2 separate regions of the Homo sapiens genome follow, and region 2 is linked to region 1. The links come from fine-mapping of genetic effects on gene expression. A gene starts in region 1. The other region holds a variant in brackets. All regions are shown on one strand. Distances are between the middles of the regions.

Region 1 (8,347 bases):
GATTTTCTTTGGGAGAGAGGAATAAAACTTTAAGAATTTCTTCAAAAGTTGCATTTTATGTTTAAGAATATGAACCCAGTCTAGAGTTCTGTTGATTATGGATGCAGATTTTATTTTCAGTGTGTGTAGATGTTTGTAGCCATCTTATATCCACATATAATTGTTTATTTGCATGTTCTGAGGGTACCACATAATTTTTGAACATGCCATGGAAAGTTATTTTTTTCTCCCAGTCCAGCTGTTAGCTTGCTTAGTGTCCTTCTCAGACATCCTACACACTCTTTGGTTGCTGTTGGAGACAGTTTGATACCACAGTCTGTGATCATGGACCCTTCTGCCCAGGGAATGCATGACACATTTGCTGTTGGAGAACTGTAGTTCACAAGCCCAAGACTAACAGGTCTCCCTAAGCTTGCATGGTTCCACAAGAAAGCAGGAAGTAAAGCGTGGTTGAGTAGAACCTGTTGGTTTGCAGATCTCATTCCTAGTTTAGAGTAAATCAGTCACAGAAGATGCTGAAGGCAGCTGGTTTCTCAATCTCATCTGAAAATTGTAGTCCTATCATCATATATTTTCTACAGTAAGTAGAAATATATATGATTGAATCTATTTCCATTAGTTTTCTCATTTAATAAATTAAGTCAACATTCTCTCTTTCACCCTGAGGCTTTCTCTCATCAACAAATACATAATTGAGCTTTACTAGAAGCTGTGAGCTTCTTCAGTGGCCTGCATTTTGCCTTGGATCCCAGTACTGGATATCCTACTAGAAATGTTGGCTGTTCTTTCCTAAAGGCATGTTGAAGCCTTCAGTCCAGGAACGTATGACCAAGGAGCAAGCCAAGAGCAAGGGCAGAGTCAACTGAATGGCACAATCAGCAAATTTGGGGTAAGTCAACTTTTCCTAGACCCTAGCCTTGGCACTAGCTCCACTGCGTTCATTTCATAGATGCTGTTCTCATGGCCTTAATATTTTCTCCAGGCCCTTGTAAAACAATATGCATGGGATCATCAAAATCTGTGATGATTTCCATCAGGAGCCACAAACATCCTATCCCATGTTATTATCATTAAGATTATGTAGAAGTCATTGAAATTGTGGTTAGAAACAAATGTGGTATCCATTTGTAGATGTAATTGTTAATGGGATTTAGGCTTGAGAAAATACTTTACAAAGGTTGAAGCAAATCCTTTATTATCTGGATTATTTTTCTAGAAATCATCTCTGCTTCTGCCTACAGAGCTCAGAGACAGGCTAGACATGGATCGAAATTCCCATGTCTATAAATGTAGGGCTGAACTACAGGTAAACAACAGGTTAACTAATATTGACTTTAGTAAAACAAGTGTCATCTCAATTGCTTTCTCATATCTGTGAACTCTAAATGATGATATAGGCTACAACCACCAAAATCAGAAGAATCATTTCTGACAACAGCACTCCTGAAGAAATAGGATAGCCATAGTAATAACAAAGCAAGTGGTTTGTATTATACCTCAGGGCAGAGTTTTGTTTGCTTTTCAAGGCAATGGGATTAATAAAGAACTAGAAGGATTTTATTCCGAGTCTAGTTAGAGCACATCTCACATTCTTGATCTGTTTGAATATATTACGGCAACTGGGAAAATAATATAGTAATCTAAATCATAGGTACTCTGGATTTGTGTGGCAGGCAGAAATAAGACATAGGTTCAGAAGAAATGTATGCAAAATAGTTACAGGTTCTCTGTGAATGCCAGAAGATACATAAGCCAGATAAGATTTCTAGAATCATTGAAAGAACTGTTCCTTCTAAAGTATCCATCTTAGAGCTAATGATATCTCTTTTCCTCCTTATCATCCTGGTAAGGAAATGAAAGTCGGCTATGTAGGAACTTGTTTGGTGGGCTTCTATCAAGCAGCTGGTTTATTTATTGACATTAGGATTAGGTATATGGTATACTAGTGCCTGAGTTTTTATGAGGTTATTTCCAATATACTCTGCTTGATATCATCTTTGCTGGACAAGGAAGTAGAACTGACAGTTTGAATATCAGCTTCTTTCCTGGTTTTACATTTGAAAGGTTTGTTTGCAGAAATATTCATATATATGTATTATATATATGTTATGTATATAATATGAATGACTTTGGTGTACAATTAAAGATATTTTTAAATTATAAGTTATAAATTATAATTATAAATTAATATAATTATAAATTATAATAAACTATTCCTGTAATTATTATAATAACTATACATTATAATAAACTGTTGCATTCTCATGCAACTCTATTCCCTGTTAAGCAACTAGGGTTATCCTTTTGATCCTAGATATGAATCTGCCCTGGCAAACCAGAGGCTTCTATACCACCTGCAAGGGTCTCATCATTAGCCATATATTATCTCAGGGTCCTCTACAGTGTCTCTTTTTATATTCACTTCCATGGAGGAAATGATGTCAATCACCAAATCAAGAGAATTCTTTGGGTTCTTTATTATAAGGGGACTAATCTCATTCGTGAGGGCTACACCCACGTGACCTAATCACGTCCCAAAGCCTCCACCTCCTAATACCATCATCTTCGGGGTTAGGATTTCAACATATGAATTTTGTGGAGACACACATATTCAGACAATAGCACTTATATTTTGGTGATCCCTCAGAAAATTAAAAGTAGAATTACTGTATGATCTAGCAATTCCATGCCTGCATGTATACCCCCCAAAATGGAAAGCAGGATCCTAAAGAGATATTTGTATACCCTTTATCATAACATAATTATTCACAATAGCAAAAAGGTGAAAGCACCTCAGCTGTCTATAAGCAGGTGAATGGACAAACAAAATGTGGCGTATACATACCAGGAAATTTTACTTAATCTTATAAAGGAAGGAAATTGTGACATATGCTACATCCTGGATGGATTTTGAGCAAATTATCTATGTGAAATAAACCTGTCACAAAAACACAAATACTGTGTTGTTTTATTTATATGAGATACGTAGAGTAGTCACATTTATTAAAAACAAAAGTAGTAGGGTGGTTGCCAGGAATCCAGGAAAGGGAAGAATAGGAATTGTTGTTTAATGGGCATAGAGTTTCAGTTTCTCAAGATGAAAAGAGTTCTGGAGATTGATTGTACAACAATGTGAATACACTTAACACTACTCAACTGTGCACTTAAACAGAGCTAAGATGATAAATTTTACATGTGTTATGCCACAATTAAAAATAAAATAAAATATAATACTCACACATTAATGCCGCATTTGATATTTTATATCTTCTTGGTAATCTTTAAAACAATTTCATTCATTTTCAGGGCACCAGTCCAGAGCAAGAGGTTCATCAAGGGTTCATTTCTGTTTTGTTAGGTTTTGTTTTGTTTTCTCTAGGATTCAAGTCTCCCCCTGTTCTATGTGTGGAACACTTTCTCTTGGCTGCCTGGCAACTCTTCAACAAGGCCCCATACACTCTGACATCAAGGAGGGTATTATCCCAGAGCTTTCTCCCAAGATACTCAAACCTGGTGGTTTGCAGGCATGAGGTGGCCACCACCAAACTTTAGTCAGTCAATAGCCAGCAGGCTCTGCATGGGCATCAGCCCTTGGACACAAAAGTGACTAAAAGGAGCTGCTAAATGCCCCAGTAGGGCTTCTGAGAAGAAAGGGCAGCAGAGTACCAGGAGGAGAAGCCTAAAGAACAAAATGCATTTGCTGATCCTGGGGGAGCTTGCAGTTTCTATGCCCTTGATACTGTTACCAAGCTGAGCAAGAGGGAGAGGAAGCAGTGCTCAGCGAGTAAGTCCTTGACCAGGCCTTCTGTAGCCTGAGATTTGCCACAAGCTGTTTCAGCCCCAGCTGTTGCAAGCAGGATGAGCAAGCCAGAATATTCACCTGGCCATCCACTCCAGTAGTGACAAGGTGTGTCGAACAGTGTCTGCAGCTTGGGTCATTTCAGGTACACGAGGATAGAAGACACCTCAGAGACTAGCCCAAACTTCTCACTTTACATATGAAGAAAACTGAGGTCCACATTCATAGATTTACAGTTCAGTGCTTACTTTACTTTGTTTGTTTGAAATAAGTTACATGTCAAAAAAAAGTGGGGGTGATGTGGAGAGTATTAAAATAGTACTGAGCTTCAGAGGAAGAATTTCTAGTATCTTACTCTCTCCTATTCCCAAGCCTTCCCCTTTCTTCCTAATAGAAGGGAAAATTCGTCACTTCCATGGTCTTCTTTTTCTTGCTTTCGAACTGGAGAAAGCCCACCGTATTTTACCTTTCTTCTCTCCCTTTAGAAAAAGAGTATGGTAAGTAAAGTACAATATTCTTCACTCACCAAAGATAAAACCCAGGCATCTTTCTCCTCCTCTCTCCTCTCCAGAATCTACCCCAGCAGCTAGGCTGGAGAAGCTGTCTAGGTGATCTCCCTTAACATTATCATAAGCAAAGATTCTTTCTTGGTTTGGGTCTCTCTGTGATTATTACCTTTGTTCTAGTCCTTCCTTCACATCATAAGATAAGGTCCAAGTTTTAGGTTTGAATCGTCCCAGACAAATGCAGAATGTCTAGTCTCTCCTGTCTATCGCAATTCAACATTTAAATTGAGCTACCTTAAAAATAAGTTTACTAGGTTGGGCATGGTGCCACATGCCTGTAATCCCAGCATTTTGGGAGGGTACACTGGGAAGATCACTTGAAGCCAGGAGTTTGAGATCAGCCTAGGCAACAAATGAGACTCCGTCTCTTAAAAAAAAAAAAAAAAAAAAAAAAAAGAAAAAAGAAAAAAAGAAAATTAGCCAGGCATGCTGACACATGCCTACAAGCCCAGCTACTTGGGAGCTGAGGAGAGAACATTGCTTGAGCCCAGGAGTTCAAGGCTGCACTGAGCTGTGATCTTCCCACTGTATTCCAGCCCATGTAATAGAACGAGACCGTCTCAAAAAAAATAAAAAAATAAAAACAAGGAAGTTTACTAAATGTTCTAGTCCAGTTTATAAAATACTTTTCATTTTATATTTGATACCTAAGTCACTGCTTAAAAAATATTTTTTGGCCAGGCACAGTGGTTCACTCCTATAATCTGAGCACTTTGGGAGGTTGAGGCAAATGGATTTCTTGAGCCAAGGTGTTCAAGAATCCCATCTCTCCAAATAAAAGTATCTAATTCAAGTATCTATTGGTGTGTGTGTGTGTGTGTGTGTGTGTGTGTGTGTGAGAAGGTGTGCAGGGAAAATGCACCTATCTTCATAGATTAATGTTACTTAGCATCCCTGGGAAAATAGTAACTCTGACTACAGAGAAAAAAATCTCCAATTTAAAAAAGTTTTTTATATAACTTCGAAGGTCAATGGTTACCTTATTTAATTTCAGGTGATAACCAGAACTTCTTGAAATTTTAAAGGACGGCTAAGTGGTTAACCAGGGAAAAACTGTGATTAAATTATTACTGTAAAGAGCAAGATCAAGACAAGTGAATATATTTCAAGGAAATGACTGCATTAAGGAATCAATATATAGTTACAAGAGCTTTCCAGTGAGTGAGTCTACCATCCACAGAGTAAAACATTTTCTACAACTATTATATCAATATGTGGCAAATAATATCTTAAGATTTATTCACAAGTTGTTCCCACTTGAATATGTAGCCTCTTCTTTGAAATTGTGCTTTAAAGTGATCATTTGTAAGCATAAGAGTAACTGCAATTCTTGTGTCTTTCATTTCAAAATGTTAGAAGTCATTGGTGAATACATGGGTAAAGATGAAAGAAATTAATGATTGCTAGATATATACTTCAGGTTTTAATTAACTTATTTATGTCAGTGATTTATAAATAGTTGTTCTGTGGAACACAAAGTCTGAAAAATGTCTTAACAGAAAAATTAAATGTTCTGTTAAAAGCAATGAATTTTGGAAACACTGCATTACTGTAATGAGGAATATTAAAGAGATTTTGACTTGGAGATAGCCAAGGGATTTGGATTTGGGGATATAATATAACCAAGTGGGGTTCATCCCAGGTAAGATAATTTAATATTTAAAATCTATTAGTAATAATGATTTTCTCAATGGAAAAAAGAAAATTTAATATAATTAAACACATATAATAAATACTCTCAACATACTTGAAGCAGAAGAAAACCTTCTCAGTCTGGTGAAGAGTTTCAACACAAAGGCATCAGATAGCATAATTCTTCATGGTTAAATAAGTATTGAATAGTGTCCTTTGATTTTAGGAAGTAGACAAGGATATGTATGATCTCATTTTTGTATCTGGCTTCTTTCATTTAGCATAATGCTTTTGAGATTCACCCACATTGTTTCAAATATTAATAGTTCACTGCCTTTGTTGCTGAGTACTAGTTAATTGTGTGGATATAGCATAATTAGATTGTACATTCACCAGTTGAATGCTTATATTGTTTTATTTATGTTGTTGAATGAACCATATAAATGTTTCCAGGTTTGACTATTATTAATGCAGCTGCTATATACATTTGCATTCAGTCTTTGTATGCACATGTTTTGTTTCTTTTGGGTGGGGTGGAATTTCTGGGCAATAGAGTGTCTGTTTAACTTGACAAGAAATTGACAAACTCTCTTTCAAAATGACTGTATTATTTTTATTCTTTCTAAAATAAACATTTAATCCTATACATTTTCCACTAAACACTGCTCCTGCAGCATCTCACAAATTTTGATACGTTGTGTTTTCATTTTATTTCTCTTGAAAATATTTTCCAATTTCTCTTAGGATCTTCTCTTTGACCCATGGACTATTTGAAAATGTATTGTTTAATTTTCAAGAGTTTGGAAATTTACCTATCTTTCTATTATTTATGTATAGTTTAATTCAGTTATGGTCAGTGTGTTAGTCTGTTTAGTGTGTCTATAACAGAATACCTGAGACTGTGTAGTTTATTTTCTATATGCATTTATTTAGCACAGGATTCTACAGGCTGGGAAGCTGAAGAGCCTAGGGCCACATGTTGGGTCAAAAACTGGCATGGGAAAAGAGATCACATGGCAAGGGAGGAAGAGACAGTGTAGGAAGTCCATCTTGCTTTTATAACAGTTCACTCTCTAGGAACTAGTCCAGTCCTGGGAGAGCAAAATTTCACTCCCATAGGAGGGTATAAATCTACTCATGAAGGATCACCTCTGAGACTCAAACACCTCCCACTAGGCCCCAACTCCCAACAACACCACACTGAGAATCAAGTTTCAGCATGAGTTTGGGTGGGAAAACCACAGCATTCAGGGAACACATTTTGTATGATATCAATTCTTTTATGTGGTTAAGATTTGTTTTATGAATCAGGATATCCTTATTTGGTGAGTGTTGGATATACACTTGAAAATAATGAATATTTTCCTGCTTGGGGTGGATAATTATGTAAATATCAATTAGAAGCCATTGATTATTGGTGGTATTCAGTCCCTTTGTATCTTTTCCAATATTCTGTCCGCTAGTTTATCTATGACTGATAAATAAATCCACTGATATAATTGTGGATTTTTCTACTTCTCCATTCAGTTTTTTCAGTTTTTCCTTCATGTTCTGAAGCTCTTTTGTTATATTCATGTACATGTAGGGTTGTTATGGCTTCTTGGTGGATTTACCCTTTTATTGTTATGTAATGTCTCTATTCTGGTAATTTTCTTTGCTCTGAAATCTACTTTGTCTGATACTAATATAGCTATTCTAGCTTTCTTTTGATTAGCATTTGTATGGGAAATGTTTTTCCAACCCTTTAACTTTAATCTAACTCTATCATTGCATTTGGCATGAGTATATCATAGATAGCACTTGGCTGAATCCATTTTTAAAAATCTTTGTTGTCCATCTCACTTTTTTAGTTAGTATATTTAGATCATTTAGAGCCCGTTGGTTTACAAACAAATTTATGGGTTTGTATTCCTGAGCTCTCCCTAAAATCTCCCAGGTATTTTCCAGTTCCCTAGTGCTTTCTTTTTCTGTCCTCTGGCCAGAAAGCTGGAGCATTGGTTACTCTATGCTGCCATATACTACCCATGACCGTGTCAACATTAGGGGTAGCGAAGATCATAGTAATTGAAGCTTCAGGTTTCTGGCCTGTGGGAAGACAAAGAGGAAAAAATATATAATTGGAGTTTTCTCCACTCTCTTGGGACAACAGATCCTCTGGTTAGAGTGGAAGATTTTCCTCCCTCAAAGTTTATATGCTCCTGGATGGATGTACAATCATTTTGGAGGTCAATATGCAACACAATATCTAACATACTTGAAGATGGGCAGCCCTGTAATCCTGTTCCTCATCATACACCCTAAAGAAACACTTCAATGTGTATACCAGAGACAAAAATTACTTTATCATTTT
Region 2 (8,347 bases), 30 kb before region 1:
CGTACCAATATTTTTAAAAGTAATTTTTGGATCCCAGGGAGAATCACTCACTCACATTAGATTTTCTTTTTAAATCTTGCCAGTGGTCATTAATTATGTACAATCATTTGTGACATTTAAAACTGTTAATTTCCTTTGTGATTTAGGCTGTGGGGATTTTATTTTTCAAGGAAACAGTTTCTCAAAACCCATACTGTAAATGATTTTAAAAATACCTCAATGAATAGTAACTATTTCTTCTTCTTATTATTATTAATCTATTTGAGTACCTAGGCCAGGAACTATGTATACATCAACCCTAGTTGACAAATTTGTAGTTAAGTCATTCAAAAGACAGGAACACTCAGAAAGGTAAAGTGATATTCCCCAACTAGAAAATGGTTGAGGGAAGGTTTATTTCCAAATCTGCCTAATTCCCAAATCATTGTTCTTTCCACCAGCTAATGCTGCCTCCTTAGAGAGAACCATATTGAGATGCTGCCATATTATAGATGCCTCTGTGTGTGTGTGTGTGTGTGTGTGTGTGTATATGTGTGTGTGTGTATGTGTGCGTGCGCTCAGAGGCTTTCACACAAATTTTTATATCCTAAATAAGTCTCTAACCAGCTTTATAATTTGGCAAAAACTGAAGTGCAAATTAGAATTAGATTATTTGTTTTATCTTTTCTGTTCTCGGCCTGCACTACCTTCATCCTATTCAAGAAAAGAGACTTTGTTGGGTGGCATGAAATTGGTTGCCAACGACTCTTAGGTGTCTTTTTGTTTTTATTTGCTTCCAGGGACTGATATTTCAATGGCTGCATAGTACCTGACCTAAAGGGGATACTCAATAAATGTCCTTGAAAGACTGAATTGTATTAATCTGTGTTTATATCTGATTGTTCCACACATAGCCCTTGTTTTCCCTCGTCTTGAAAATACCCAAATACACATTGCAATTTTATGTATTAAATAAAATGTATTCTCAGATGCACTTACATATGGACAATGTTTTAAAACTCACTTATATTTGCATTTGAAAAGCTTGTATCAGACCATTATATAATCTAACAATTATTAGGGCTCTTAGAGATACTATGGTTGAACCCTTTCATCTTACTGAAAGATAAAATTGAATCTTTGAGAAAGTAGGACATCTTTGTTTTAAAATTAAATAAGATTATAAATTCACCTAGGAAATTTAGAGATGTGTTTCTTTCAATAATGGTAGTGTTTCCTTATGTTGGTGACCGCTCCTTCCCTTGCTGGCTTACCTTTTGTGGCTGGGTAGGAGGCAGTGTTGCATGGAGTGTTGGGGTCAGAATGACCTGAGTTTGGGATATAACTCTGACATGCTTGACATGTGGCTTTGAGCAAATTACACAATTTTCTCTACCCAGAATTTCATTTTTTTAAATAAATTAAGCATTATAATAACTATCTCCAGAGATTGTTTTAAAGATTAAATGAGATACTGTATGGTAAGAACTTAGCATAATCCTCTTATAGTAAATGTTCAATAAATCTCAGGTTTTAGCACTGTTGTGACATAACCACTGCTTATAGTCTTTGAGTTTGAAGATGTCTATTTAACCTCTCTAAAATACATTGAAATGAAAAATGTTAATCATTCCTGCTCTGCCTACTGTGGCACTCCTACTGTGATTCCTTACCCTAACACCTCCTTTACTGGCTTTTCTCCTGCTCTGAATTTCTTTCTCCACTCTCATCATCTTGTTAAATTTTACCTTAAATTAACTATGTGCTCCCAAACCTTTGACTCAGGCTCTGTCTGTAGGAGAGTTCAGCAAAGACAGCCCTTTATATGAATTCACTTTCAGAGCTAAGTAAATTAAAACCAAATTTAAATGGATTGTTATGATAAAGAAATTTGTTTGATTCACACAATTCAAAGTCCCAGAGAAAATATTTATTCCTGCCCTTTTACTAAAGTGCCAATATTACAAAGATTTGATTTCTCTCCAACACCTTGCTTAGACTTCTAATATACCGGCTTTATCCTATGGTTGCTATTCCTCATGGTCCCAAGATGTGTTCCAGAAGGTTCCACAGTAAGATGCATTGCCATTTATGGGTGATGTGAACGACGTGATGTCTTCATTCCAGGGTGCTTAGAAAATTTCCTGAGATTCACCCTGACTGCATCAGCATATGTTCCATGTCCATGCCTGTACCAATCACTGTGACCAGGGAAATTAAACATGTGGATTGGCTTAGATTCAGTTATGGGTTTCAGCCTAGAGTGGGTGAAGGAAGCAGCTTCTTTGAACCTATAGAGATTCCCAAGCAGAAGTTGAAGCTGCTGGGAAGGGTTAACACCTGGGAAGGTGGTGAGCAGGTAATAAAAAATGTCGGCTGGGTGTGGTGGCTCACGCCTGTAATCCCAGCACTTTGGCAGGCCAAGGCAGATGCATCACTTGAGGTCAGGTGTTCAAGACCAGCCTGGCCAACATGGTGAAACCCAGTCTCTACTAAAAATACAAAAATTAGCCAGGCATGGTGGTGCATGCCTGTAATCTCAGCTACTCGGGAGGCTGAGGCAGGAGAATGAGTTGAACCTGGTAGGTGGAGGTTGCAGTGAGCCGAGATAGCACCATGGCACTCCAGCCTAGGCGACAAGAGCGAAACTCCATCTCAAAAAAAAAAAAAAAGTCTACTACTTGACTTCACATGATTGCAGTGAAACAAAAAGGAAATGATATTTGTGAATATTCTCTATAGTATAGCTATAAGGTGATATACAAATATCTGGTTATTGTCATCTGATTTTCCTTGGCAGGAGCATCTCAGGAGGTCTATCCGTTTGTCTCTAACCCATACCAAGGACTCTATGCAAAATAGTCCCAAGACCAACTTCACTTCTCCTTGGTGCTCAGTGAGAATGGTTGCTGCCTTTTGAGCCATGGCACACCAGCAGATGTGCATGGGCAGAAAAGCGCTGATAAATTTCTATATAGACAGAAAGAGCAATGCATGTGTTCCTCTGGGCAACATTTGATATTCACTGAAACAGCTGTTATCTCTCAGTCATTGCACATAAGGTTAAAGTGAATAGGATATTGTTAGTATAGACTCAAGCAGTTTTTTTTTTTTTTTGTAGCAATAGGACCACACCACACATGGGCCATTCTGCCATCTATGAGACTGTTCAATTTTGTTCCTCACAAGAGGAAAGAAATAACTTGAATCCACAGAAAACGTTATAGACTACCCTAAATATAGCATGCATTCTGCTTTCCATATTCCAAAGCTCTGAAACAAATTCAGGAAGTAACTTTGACTTCTTGTCATCAACTATGATTTATTTAAGAATAGCATTCCAAAACCTGAGTCCCAGAACCAACTAAATTAAAAAGATGAAACACATTTTAAAATATGTGACGGTGTTTAGATCAAAAGGATCCCAAATGCTGAGGTAATTGTCTTAGTAAATAATACGATGGGCACTTCAAATATGAACAAGTGATGGTCAGAGCGCAGATAGAATTTTTAGATGACATTTAACAAAATGCAGTGAAGATGGCCAATGTAAATGTTTTTCTTTTTTTCTTAATAAAAGAACATAGGGGCCATATGCTGAGGCACAAACAGTTGGAAAATGCAGTAATCCAGGAAAAAGAAGCAGATCAGCATTAATTCTAGCCTTGCTTTGTAGCGATAAATGTGTTTTTTAAAATGACTAATTGAATACATGACAAGAAAAGACATTCCTGGAAAATAACTAGCAGTTGAGAACATATCGCTACCTTGCAGAAACCGACTCACAGTAACTTATACTGAAAGGTGAAGTCAAACAAACAGAGTTAGAATTAATAAACCACAGCAATAACTCAGGGCATTGTGAAATGACTGAAAAAAATAGTCTTTACTCTGCAAACTTTTGGCACAAAGCTGCTTCTTTAAACCTGCTTGTTTTTGCGGGAAATCACACGTGATCAATGATTCTATGAGTAAGAAGTCATGAATATTTCAGGCTGTAGTAGTCGATTAAGTACACAGGCAGGAAAGGTGAAGAGGGAAATAGCTTGAATTGGTTACTGGCAATGTCTACGACTTGATGGTATATTTACAAAAGCCCCCAAAGCATCACCTGGTTTTATGAGTTGTATCCTATCATCTGATGCCACAGATAGGGTGTAGTGGCGTGACCAAATCTGGGCCAATGGTAAGGGAGAAATATTGCAGGGAAAGATTCAAAATGTCACTATACAAAAGACATGTAATATGCAAGATTGGGATAGAAGGCAACTACAGCAACTCAGAGGCAAGAAACTGTATCAGTTCATTCATTAGCACTCCAGAGGACACATTCATACAAAGAAGAACAAGGAAGTTAATTTCAACACAAGACAAAGGGAAACTTTCTACCACTGAAAACAGTTCAAAAGTAGAAGGTCTAATCAGGTCCTTTCCAATGAATGTGGTCAGAGACCTCTACCCCCAGACATGTTGAGCATCCTCCTCAGGGCTGAACCAAATAACTAGGTGAGGATGCAAAAGCTCTGGGGGAAATCTTTTTTTAAATTTTTGTTGCCAATATTCTTTTTATTTCTTTGGGACTTTGGAAGTTAGGAAAGAATTTCTGGAGCATTTGACAAACATTTTATACGGAGATCTGCAAACAAGGAAATTTCACTGAAGTTCTCAGAATTTATGAATTGCAGGACAAAGTTATTGGCTTTAATTTCTTTGAAAATAGATATTTTTTCTAAAATGAGAAGTGTGTATATTAGGACTGAAATTGATGC[G/A]GATGCAAAATAGCATTTAAGAATAGCATTCCTAAACCTGAAAGCCTAATATGACCAAAAGAGAAAGTTAAAACTTAAGTTGTCAATATAGAAATATTATGAGATTAAATGAGAATACACATATTAAAGGTATGTCATATAAACACTGGTTCCCTATCTTTTCATGGAAAACTCAGAAGACATATTTTTATATGTGCATGGTAGAAGTGTACAAATTCTAAAGACCTCTAACTTGGTAGTAATAGTCTCCAGTTCAGAAAATCATCCACCCCTAGATTTCAATCTTTGGTTATTTAGTCAGGGGTTCTGCAGTGTCTGCAAGTTCTTGGAATGGGAGTGTTCAGGTTTTCTCTGCCTTGAATTGTGGTTGAGATTAAAAAACGCCTTGGCACATCCTGTTTGAAGTACAGTAGATGAATCAAGTTCTGGCCATGTCCCAGCTATGGATGCTAAAATGGTATCATCTCCCTCAGCAGCTAAGGTTCCCAGCCATAAAGGCCAGGCGTCTTTAAGTGAAAGCTTCAGTGGGTTAATTGACACTTAGTGAGGTGTTTTTTTTTTTTTTTTTTTTTTTTTTTTGACAGAATGGCACAATCTCTATTATCTCATGGGAACAAGATGGTAGAGTTCTGGCTATGGTGTTCTGTTGGACAACAAGGCATAGCCCACTCAGCATGGGGAAGTGTAAACTGTGGTACATTTGAGGTTCCCTGGTAGAAAACAAGAACTTCCCAAACATGAAGTGATGCATGGAGAGAAACGTGGAGATAGCATGCATGTTCTCTCCAGGTATGAAGAGAAATCTTGTTCATAGAAGACTTGAGCTAGAAGGGGATAAACTGACCTTGCCAGGAAAACAGTCTTGAAAGCTGAGGTTACAGCGATGTGGCAAAGTACAGGTCTTTTTTTTTTTTTTTTTTTTTTTTGTGCCTGCTACCTTTGTTACTGATGGGAGTCCTTCAGAGTGGTTCTTTAAAGGAATAAGATATTTCAGTATCTTGCTTAGGCACCAGATCCATACTTTTAGATGTCTTCGCCATTACACAGCCACTTCTTAGGTGCAAACCAGCCTTGACATTGCAGTGACCTTATGGATTTGGCACCAAGCCTGCTACAGGCCAAGAACCACTCCCTACTCTACCTGAACCACTTAATCCCCCAAACATGGGACATCTTATACACATCTCTCCAGACAGTGAGGACTAGCCCCTTGCAATTACTCTCCCAAGGAAGATGATAAGTGCATTCAAGGTGATTTGTCAGTCTCAGTGTGTACTCTGAAATGTTTGGCTCTATTCACTGAATAAATAAAGATGCCACATACAATCTAGTGATACATCTTTCTATTAGGCATAATGTCGGAAAAGATATACAATAGTGTTAATATTAGTGTTAATATTTAAAGCAAACACTCCCTCAGTGTTCCTTTTCAAATCTTCTAAAGTTCATAGGTGAAATTTTTAAGGTAAACTGTAAGATAACTTTGTAAAAAATGTCATCAGGATTTCAATTATGTTTGGTACATATATATTATTTGCAGAATTTTGAAAATATTAGATATATTTATTTCTTCCCACCAGATGAATAATCTATTCCTCCATTTATTTGAACTTTTTACACATTTTATGATGAATTTCTATAGTTTCCTGATTTTGGTTCTAGACTTTGTTTTATGACCTAGAGTTTTGGAATATAAAAAGCTAAGAGCTTTATATATATTATATTCTCACTATTATATCTTCATTGTTTTAAAGTTTTAAAGTTAATTTTCTTTTATTTCTAGGGACAATCATATCATTTTGAAGTAATGTCTGTGTCCTTGTTCTCATCTGTTATAATCTCAGTTGACTTTTTGTATTATTCCTGATCTTAGGAGAAAGCATCCAATCTTTCACCCTCACATATGAGATTAACTGTGAGTTTTGATAGATTTCCTTTATCAGGTTGAGCAAGTTCTCTTTTTTCCCTATCTTGTTGAGTGTTTTATTTTTTTCCAACCATGAAATGAGATTGTATTTCTTTTCAAATACCTTTATGTATCTAGTGAGATGATTGCATAGTGTTTTCCTTTTATTATATTAATATGGTGTTTTATATTTATTGACATTTGGATATTAAACCAGCTTTACAACCCTGGGATAAAGCCCACTTGGTTATAGAGTGTAATCATTTTATGTGTTAATTGGATTTGGTTTGCCAATATTTTTTCAATATTTTTTGTGTCTATGTGTCTATATTCATAACAAGTATTGGCCTGTAGATTTCTTTTCTTATGATGTCTTTGGTTTTAATATCAAGGTAATACTGACCTCATAGACAATTTCTTCCTTTTTAAAAACAGTTTGTGAAGATCTAGTATTAGCTGTTCTTCAAATGTTTGGTAGAAATTACCAAGAAGGCCCTCTGAATCTTAAGCTCTTCTTTGTGAAAAGTATTGAAATTATTAATTTAATCTCCTTAATTTTTATATTTACTTTTTATTTGTGTAAAGCATCAGATATACTTTATTTGTTAATTTCTTTCAAATTATGTGTGTTTGGTACTGATTAAGAGAATGCCAGTACCAAACACACAGAAATAAAGGAATAATAAGGAAAGAGTATTGCAACTGTATGCCAATCAGAGCAGTTCCAAACATATTTCAGCCTTTAGATTTAGAAATATGAACCTTTTATCATTTTTCTTAATCATTCTAAATTTTTGTCAATTAAGTAATATTTTAAAATAACCAGTGTTTGTTTTGTTGATTTTCTCTATGTTTATTTCATTTGTTCACACACTTATTTTAATTATTCCCTGTCTTGTGCTTGCTTTGTGTTTAGCTTGTTCTTCCTTTCCCAATTTCTTATGGCAATAGATTATCAATTTGATTTCTTCTTTTTTTTCAATATAGATGTTTAAAGATATAAATGTCTCTGTCAGGACTATTTTAGTTTCATCTTATAAGTTTAAGTTTTTGTATGTTGTATTTTTGTTTCCATTATCTCAGAATTTTCTAGTTTACCTTGTGATTTCTTCCTTGATTCTGGTTATTTAGGAGTGTGTCATTTAATTTCCATATATTTGTGAATTTCCCAAATTTATTTTTGTTATTGATTTCTAATTTAATATCATTGTGGTCAGGAAACATGGTTTATATGATTTTAATGTGTTTAAATTTACTGAAGCTTGATTTATAGTCTAGCATATTGTCTATTTTGAAAATGTTACATAGTACCAGAGAAGAATGTGTATTCTTCTGCTGAGTGAAGTGCTGTATAGATATTTGTTAGATTTAGTTGGTTCAGTGTTGTTCATGTCATCTATATCCTTGTTATTCTCTCTAGTTCTATCCATTATTGAAGTGAATATTAAAATACCTAACTATTGTTGAATTGTCCCTTCCTCCCTTCAACTCTTATAGACTTTATGAGTTTTGGGGCTGTGTTGTTACGTGTATATTTATTTATAATTGTTATTCCTTCTGGATTTATTGATGCTGTTACCATTATAAAATATCTTTCTATTGATATTTTTGTTTCAAAATCTATTTTGCCTGGTATTAGTATAGGTCAGTTTTTTTATAATTGCTGTGCGCCTGCTATATTTCTCTTCATCCT

Alleles and levels. Alleles are on the strand shown, and positions count from the first base shown. SD is a standard deviation of normalised expression in the study named.
With allele A in place of G in region 2, the expression in testis of the gene that starts at base 3,400 in region 1 is higher (small effect, 0.24 SD a copy in GTEx).

The links. PIP is the estimated chance that this variant, and not a neighbour inherited with it, causes the effect.
Region 2: its variant is fine-mapped to the expression of LINC02624 in testis (GTEx, PIP above 0.99).

What each region holds. Positions count from the first base shown.
Region 1 is chr10:106,135,218-106,143,564 of GRCh38, reverse strand. It overlaps LINC02624 (long intergenic non-protein coding RNA 2624), which reads right to left and starts at 3,400. Exons shown (of 5, transcript NR_134330.1): 1 at 3,239-3,400. It overlaps LOC105378469 (a long non-coding RNA gene), which reads left to right and starts at 3,708. Exons shown (of 6, transcript XR_007062381.1): 1 at 3,708-3,784.
Region 2 is chr10:106,164,948-106,173,294 of GRCh38, reverse strand. All of the region lies in intron 1 of LINC02624 (long intergenic non-protein coding RNA 2624), which reads right to left. Among named protein-coding and RNA genes, the nearest start is that of LINC02624, 29 kb to the right of the region's middle. The variant G/A (reference allele first, on the strand shown) is at 4,749.